2 linked regions of the Homo sapiens genome follow. The protein of the gene in region 2 interacts with the protein of the main gene of each other region in a biochemical or structural test. Each region holds a gene or a part of one and is shown on either strand. Other genes may lie near its edges. The genes, in order: KIF14 and TUBGCP2.

What was found.
Region 1: the proteins of TUBGCP2 (region 2) and KIF14 interact in a test that uses a peptide from one of them, tested with the Homo sapiens proteins (one study listed by BioGRID).

The regions. Positions count from the first base shown.
Region 1 is NC_000001.11:200,619,031-200,622,943, reverse strand, and holds the start of KIF14 (kinesin-like protein KIF14), read left to right. Parts: upstream 1-2,192; 5' UTR 2,193-2,533; exon of another isoform or gene 2,534-3,913. UniProt on the Homo sapiens protein: Microtubule motor protein that binds to microtubules with high affinity through each tubulin heterodimer and has an ATPase activity. Plays a role in many processes like cell division, cytokinesis and also in cell proliferation and apoptosis.
Region 2 is NC_000010.11:133,302,145-133,306,057, forward strand, and holds part of TUBGCP2 (gamma-tubulin complex component 2), read right to left. Parts: intron 837-3,913; 5' UTR 798-836; coding exon 648-797; intron 1-647. UniProt on the Homo sapiens protein: Component of the gamma-tubulin ring complex (gTuRC) which mediates microtubule nucleation.

The sequences.
Region 1 (3,913 bases), on a different chromosome or scaffold from region 2:
TTTAAAAATTGTGAAATTTGCTAAATTGTAATAGATTTAATCTTAGGCCGGGCGCAGTGGCTCACGCCTGTAATCCCAGCACTTTGGGGGGCTGAGGTAGGTGGATCACCTAAGGTCGAGAGTTCGAGACCAGCTTGACCAACATGGAGAAACCCCTTCTCTACTAAAAATACAAAATTAGCTGGGGTTGTGGTGCACGCCTGTAATCCCATCTACTCGGGAGGCTGAGGCAGGAGAATCGCTTGAACCTGGGAGACGGACGTTGCGGTGAGCCAAGATCAAGCCATTGCACTCCAGCCTGGGCAACTAGAGCGAAACTCCGTCTCAAAAAAAAAAAATTTAATCTTAAGAGATCATTAATTAGCATGAGTTAATCATTTTTCTTTAAATCTTACATAATCCAGAAAGCTTCAAACGTGCCAGTTTTACTTCGACTCTTTCCACGTTTTCTTTCTGTTTGTCTCCCTCTGGTGGATTTAAAAAAATACTTGCTTTATTCTATTTATGAGCTTATTTTCCTTTTAAAATTGAAAAAGGTCTTTATGTCTTCTGTCATGTTTAATATATATTTCCAGTTACATTTTATTTTTATTATTTTGAATTATACATATGTTTAAAATTTTTATGTATTTGAGTTTGTCTGTCTTTTCTTTGACATATCTTGCTTTGTTTCTAAATTGAATGATCATTTTCCCATAGATGTGATAACTTTTTTTTTTTTTTTTCTTGAGACGGAGTTTCTCTCTTGTCCCCCAGGCTGGAGTGCAATGGCGCGATCTCGGCTCACTGCAACCTCCGCCTACCCGGTTCACGTGATTCTCCTGCCTCAGCCTCCTGAGTAACGGGGATTACAGGGGCCCGCCACCACGGCTGCCTAATTTTTGTATTTTTAGGAGAGACGGGGTTTCACCATGTTAGCCAGGCTGGTTTTAAACTCCTGACTGCAAGTGATCCGCCTGCCTTGGTCTCCCAAAGTGCTAAGATTACAGGCGTGAGCCACCGCACCTGGCCCTGATAAATATTATATTCTATTTTCTGATAGTTTCCTTATACCTTAATTTTAATTGAGTTTTAGAATGATTTTTAGAGTAAGATTTAGAATGAGTACTTTATCATCTGTTTGGTTGGTCTATATAATTGGAGCTACTTATGGTCTCTATCTCAGTGAATACTTCTTCAATATCTCTGTACTTTTTGCCTGTTTAAAAAACATTGTTGCTTTACAATATCTATTTATCTAGTCTTTCTCATTTATTTGGTTATTTTTCAGAATGTATTTGTAATATTTTTTCAGATTTCAAAATCTTATGGGGGCTGGGCGGCGCAGTGGCTCACGCCTGGCAGCTTACAAGGTCAGGAATTCGAGACCAGCCTGGCCAATATGGTGAAACCCCGTCTCTACTAAAAATACAAAAATTAGCTGGGCGTGGTGGTGCGCGCCTGTAATCCCAGCTACTCCAGAGGCTGAGGCAGGAGAATCGCTTGAACCAGGGAGGCGGAGGTTGCAGGGGCCACTGCACTCCAGCCTGGGCTGCAGAGCGAGACTCCGTCTCAAAAAAGAAAAAAAAAATTAAAAAAAGGGAACTTTTACTGAAACGGAGTTACATTGTACGGCGGCAAGAACCTTCAAGTTCTAGTTATGCCACTGCTAATTGTCTGATCTTTCACAAGTTTAACTCTAAACCTCAGTTCCTCATCTGTAAACGAGGGATAACATTAATATTTATCTCACAAGATTTTCAGGACTGTTTAAAAATTCATATAAGACATTTAGCATATTTCCTACGTGAACGCCTTGCATAGGAAACACTAGAAAAGTTAATTATTATGATTAACTTGGGGGCAAATATCCATTTACAATGTGAAGTCTTCGATGTAATGGCTTCTTTTAGATTAAAGACCGACAAGAGTGTCACTGTCATGCTTTTCGTTTGACACCCACTTCAACGAGGGGCCCGCTGCGCCCGCGACCGCCGCCCCTTCCTCTGGTCGGATTTAAAGGGGGCCAAGCTCCACGCTTTAGCAGAACCCGAGGAGGGGAGGGAGCGTTGCCTGGGAGATGAGGGTGGGGCGAGTCCAGCATTCAGAGACGGCTACCGGAGCCCAACCACCGGCACTTCCGGGGGGCGGGTGGAAGCAAAGGCGCGGCACCCGACGCGACGCCCAGCAGCCAATCAGAAGGCGGGGCGCCCATTCAAATTGCGGCCTTCTGGGGAGCCGGCGCTGGAGGTGGTGAGTGGCGTGGGGACTGTGTCGAGGGGGTCCCCAAGGTGCCGGACCCTGCGGAGGGGCGAAGTTTCGGCACTGGGGAGGGCGTGCGGACGCTTTCCCTACAGGCGACCACTGCTCTGCGGGCGGGTGGTCTTAGCTCCAGTCCCCCATTCAGTTCCTCAGCATTCCAGGTCGGCGGCGAAGGGGTCCCCGAACGAAGGGCGCAAGGCAGCGTCTCTGCTGGGACCGGGAAGCCGGACTTCAGGGCCTCTCGGCCCGTGGGCTTCTCCCCGAGTCTCCCCGAGTCGGTTGGCATTAAGAGGTAATTCTTAGTCATAGCCCCTGGTAATGACTAGCAGAGAAAGAACAGAATCACCGGATGTTTTGGTTTGGATTGTGCTTATTTTCCTTGTATTCCTTCCAGTCCTCTTTAAAATCTGATGGCGAAACTCCTCAAACAGAAACCGTATTGATTTGTGCAAATCGCAAATGGTTTTTAGTTGCAAGAGAATTTCCAGAATCTTCTTTTTGCCTTTAAATTCATTTCATAACAGGAAAATTCTGTATTTTGAGTTGAAACGTTGATGGGAGATGCTTATAAGCTGACGAATTTTTTTTGTAATGACTGTTATTTATGTAAAAATTTAAAAGCCTCATTTAAAAATGAACTTCCATTAATTTGTTCCTCGCTAGCAATAATCTTTGCAATAGTTTGAACCAGTGTCATTTTACAGGTTAGAACCCGGCATGCAAATTTAAAGTCTTGTTTACATCCTTGTAAGGAGTTGGATACAAAGCTGACTAAAAGCCAGGTCTCTTAGCTGTCACTGCTGTTCCCTTTCTTTAAAACGTTAATACCTGATAGATATTGTTGCTGTATATTTACATACACCTCTGTCTAATTTGTTGTCTTACTGCTAAAGGGCAGGTTGTCTGTTTATCTAATCTTGCATGGTTTTTCTCAACACAATTAATTTACAGTACTTATCGTACTTACTGCCTGTGGTACTTGGGAATAATCTGCCTCGTGACACCAATCAATTCAATCTTCTCTATAGGCATTCCTGTATTCAACATACATGGGCCGGACGCGGTGGCTCACGCCTGTAATCCCAGCACTTTGGGAGGCCGAGGCGGGCGGATCACAAGGTCAAGATATCGAGACCATCCTGGCCAACATGGTGAAACCCCGTCTCTACTAAAAATACAAAAATTAGCTGGGCATGGTGGTGGGCGCCTGTAGTCCCAGCTACTTGGGAGGCTAAGGCAGGAGATTTGCTTGAATACAGGAGGAGGAGGTTGCAGCAAGCCAAGGTCGTGCCACTGCACTCCAGCCTGGTGACAGAGCAAGACTCCATCTCAAAAAAAATATTTTTATAAAAATAAAATAAAATAAACCTTCTTATGGAACATTGGCAAAAAAAAAAAATACGTGTAGCAGGTATTTATAAAAATACTTTGCTCCACACTCTGATTTAGGTGCTAGGGTTTCCTTTAGTCCTTCCCATTCCCCACACTGGAAGTACTTGAAAATCTATGTTGGCATGCACTTTTTACATCTTCTAAGTCACTTGACACATTTGGCCTGATATATGGCTTATCAGTATATTTCTTCTAGACTAAAGAAATGGGAATTGTATTCTTGTCTTTGAAGTCTACAGTATCTATCAGAGGGCCTGGCACTAATGGAAACTTAGTCAAT
Region 2 (3,913 bases):
CACAGTGGGGTGAATCACAGGAGCTGCTGGGGGGAGTCAGGAGAATCAGAGCTGAACACACACACAGACCAAGTGCTGTCTGCCATCGTTGCCGGTACCATTGAGGCCACCCAGGAACGGGCACTCACCCTGCATCTTGCACGGTACACAGCCCTGCACCAGGGGCAGTGCTCACCCTGCACCATCCTGACCCCGGGGTGGCGCTCACCCTGCACCCCGCACAGCCCTGCACCAGAGGTGGCGCTCACCCTGCACCCTGCACCAGAGGTGGCGCTCACCCTGCACCCTGCACCAGAGGTGGCGCTCACCCTGCCCCCTGCACCAGAGGTGGCGCTCACCCTGCACCCTGACCCAGGGGCGGTGCTCATCATGCACCCTGACCCAGGGACGACGCTCATCCTGCACATGGACTGAGGGGTGGGTTCACCCTGCACCATCCTGATCCAGGAACAGTGTTCATCCTGCACCCTGACCCAGGGGTGGGCTCACCCTGCACCCTCACCCAGGAATGGTGCTCACCCTGTACCACCCTGACCCAGGAACGGCGCTCACCCTGCACCCTGACCCAGGGGTGGGCTCACCCTGCACCACCCTGACCCAGGAACAGTGCTCACCCTGCACAGCGCTACACCAAGGGCAGTGCTCACCTTGGCACTGTGAGCAGAGACAGTGGTAGTGACGTACGGGGTCCTGTTCTTTTGAAGCAGGTCAATGTAGACCTCAGCCCCATCTCCTCCGTGGACACGCAGCAGGCTAAGCAGTTCATTGACGTCATGGTGAATCCGAAATTCACTCATAGTTTTAGCTCTGAGGCACGAACATCACAATATGTTCTCCTATAGGTAAGAAGACAGCTATTCATAAAATTCAAACTGTAGAAATAAAAAACATTTTTTTAAACACTCAAGACTGGCCAATGTCAGGCTTTGACAAACCAAGTTATCACCTGGCCTGCCTGGCCTAGGGCCCCTCCCCCAACAGCCCAGCAGCCTCTCAGAGGGTCCTCTGCATGGGCCTGGGATTAGGGCCCCTGCCCAACACCCCAGCAGCCTCTCAGAGGGTCCTCTGGACGGGACTGGGATTAGGGCCCCTCCCTGAACTCCAGCAGCCTCTCAGAGGGTCCTCTGCATGGGCCTGGGATTAGGGCCCCTCCCCGACACCCCAGCAGCCTCTCAGAGGGTCCTCTGGGTGGGCCTGGGATTCACCTGCCTCCAGCTTCCAGGCGGCCTCCGCAGCTCCGGGAGCCAGCCCCGTGGGCAGCATGAATGGGGCCTGAGACCCAGGTTCCCTTTCCCCTGCACCTCCCTCCACACATGGGTCTGGGCCAGCAGGGAATGCTCTGCTGCTCGCCTCGGCTTGGGGACAGAGCTTTCTGGTCCCAGACGTGAGGCCTGTGGGGTCTACACAGGGAGCTCTGTGCAGGCCCAAGCCATTGACACTGTGCCAGCTACCGGCACACACAGTAACATCCCAGCTTCTACCGGAGAGGCCCACACTGGTTCTCAGAGCCCGCGGTGCTCAGCCGCAGCTCCATTCACTTGGCCGGCTCTGCGTTACTTTTTCACTCTGGTACCCGTGACATCTCCTTTTCTTGCCCAAGCGTGGCTACCGACAGAGACGCTTCTGGTAGGACTTCTACACGTTCCCTACACGTTTGAGCTAGGTGAAGTTCCACTGCAGCTCCAGCTGCCCCAGGGGCTCACCAGGAGACATATAACACATATGAGATCGAAGGCGTCACAGACACCCAAGTGGGCAGCAGAACACTGCGTGGGGTCAGGGTGTAGGGTGAGCCCACCCCTGGGTCAGGGGGCAGGGTGAGCGCCGCCCCTACTCTCCCACCAGTGGCTGCTCATTAGCCTCTGTCACCAAGAGTTCCGATACAAGGCCATTAAGACAAACACATGGCTGTGTGCAGTGGCTCTCGCCTGGAATCCCAGCATTTTGGGAGGCTGAGTCAGGTGAGTCACTCGAGGCCAGGAGTCAAGACAGCCTGGGCAACACAGTGAGACTCTGTCTCTACAAAAAATACAAAAATTAACTGGGCATGGTAGCATATGCCTGTAGTCTTAGCTACTCGGGAGGCTGAGGTGGGAGGATCGCTTGAGCCACTCCAGCCTGGGCGACAGAGGGAGACCCTGTCTCAACAAAAAACAAAACAAAACAAAAAACACAGGCAAGGCAACTGGCTATAGATTACAAAACAAATATAAGCAAACTTTACATGCTTCACAAACATTTCATCTACACAAGGGTTCTTAAGCCGGTATCCATGAGTAATCAGTAACAGATGAGCCCTTGAAAGTTATGGGCAAAATAACTTTTTATTTTCTGAGGAGATGACCCTTCAACAAATTCTCAAAGGCTCTATGACCCAAAAAAGGTAAACAACCACTCTGCTGACAGCTTCAGGGAGACAAGGATGAGCTCAACAAAACATCGAGTGTGGGCGGCAAGCCACCCAGGTGCCGAGGCAAGAGACCGAGGGCACGAGCTGTTCCAGTGTAACAAAATATATAAAACAACAAGAGTTATGCTAGATCTAGATCATAGATATGATTATATATGAATATCATTAATCATCAGTTTGTAGCAATTACTCTTTATTCCAATATTATAATAATCCTTGCTCTACAATCATAACCTAGGAAAAACCAGGCCATACAGAGATAGGAGCTGAGGGGACATAGTGAGAAGTGACCAGAAGACAAGAATGTGAGCCTTCTGTCATGCCCGGACAGGGCCACCAGAGGGCTCCTTGGTCTAGCGGTGATGCCAGCGTCTGGGAAGATGCCCCTTGCCAAGCGGACCTTGGTCTAGCGGTAGTGTCAGTGTCAAGGAAAAACACCCGCTACTTAGCAGACCGGGAAAGGGAGTCTCCCTTTCCCCGGAGAGTTTAGAGAAGACTCTACGCCTCCAACTCTTGTGGAGGGCCTGACATCAGTCAGGCCCGCCCGCAGTTATCCGGAGGCCTGACTGTCTCCCTGTGATGCTGTGCTTCAGCGGTCACACTCCTGGTCTGCTCTCATGTTCCATCCCGTACACCTGGCTCCGCCCTCTAGATAGCAGTAGCAAAATTAGTGAAAGTATTAAAGTCTTTGATCTTTCTGAAAAGAACATAGAAGAAATAATGACATAAGCTGTCCTCTCTCTCTCCGCCTCGGCTACGTAACAGGGAAGGGCCCCATGTCTGGTGGACACATGACACACATGACCTTATCAATCATTGGAGATGACTCACACTCTTTACCCTGCCCCTTTTGCTTTGTATCCAATAAATAACAGCGCAGCCAGGCATTCGGGGCCACTACCGGTCTCTGCGTCTTGGTGGTAGTGGTTCCCCGGGCCCGCTGTCTTTTCTTTTATCTCTTTGTCTTGCGTCTTTATTTTTACAATCTCTCATCTCCGCACACGAGGAGAAAAACCCACCGACCCTGTGGGGCTGGTCCCTACAATAGAGTACAGAAGACTCAGCACATACTCCCACAATATGCTAATTCACTAACGATTATTAGCACGGGACTCGACACCGAGATTCTAATCCTGTGTGATGGAAGACAGTTTATCTGTAGATGAACATCAAATACTGGTCACAGGCAGGGTATCTCCGAAAATGGAAGGAGAGCGATAAGAAGGCATGGTGCTGAGTTGCTCACACACATGCTTTTGACCCAGGAGGTGCTCACGGTAACTACAGTTCAAGCACAAGGCCAGCAGGGCACGCGCCATGGAGCCCCATGCAGTCTGGACACTGACGTGGCTACTTCTAGGCTGTGGGACCCTGAACAAGGACACGTCCTCTCCAAGCTTCTTCTGAAAAGGGGAAGCCCTAGGTCCTGCGTAGAGCTGTGGTAGAGAGAAGTGAAATCACCCTGAGAAAGCACAGAAGGGCCCATACGTGGTAAGTTCTTAC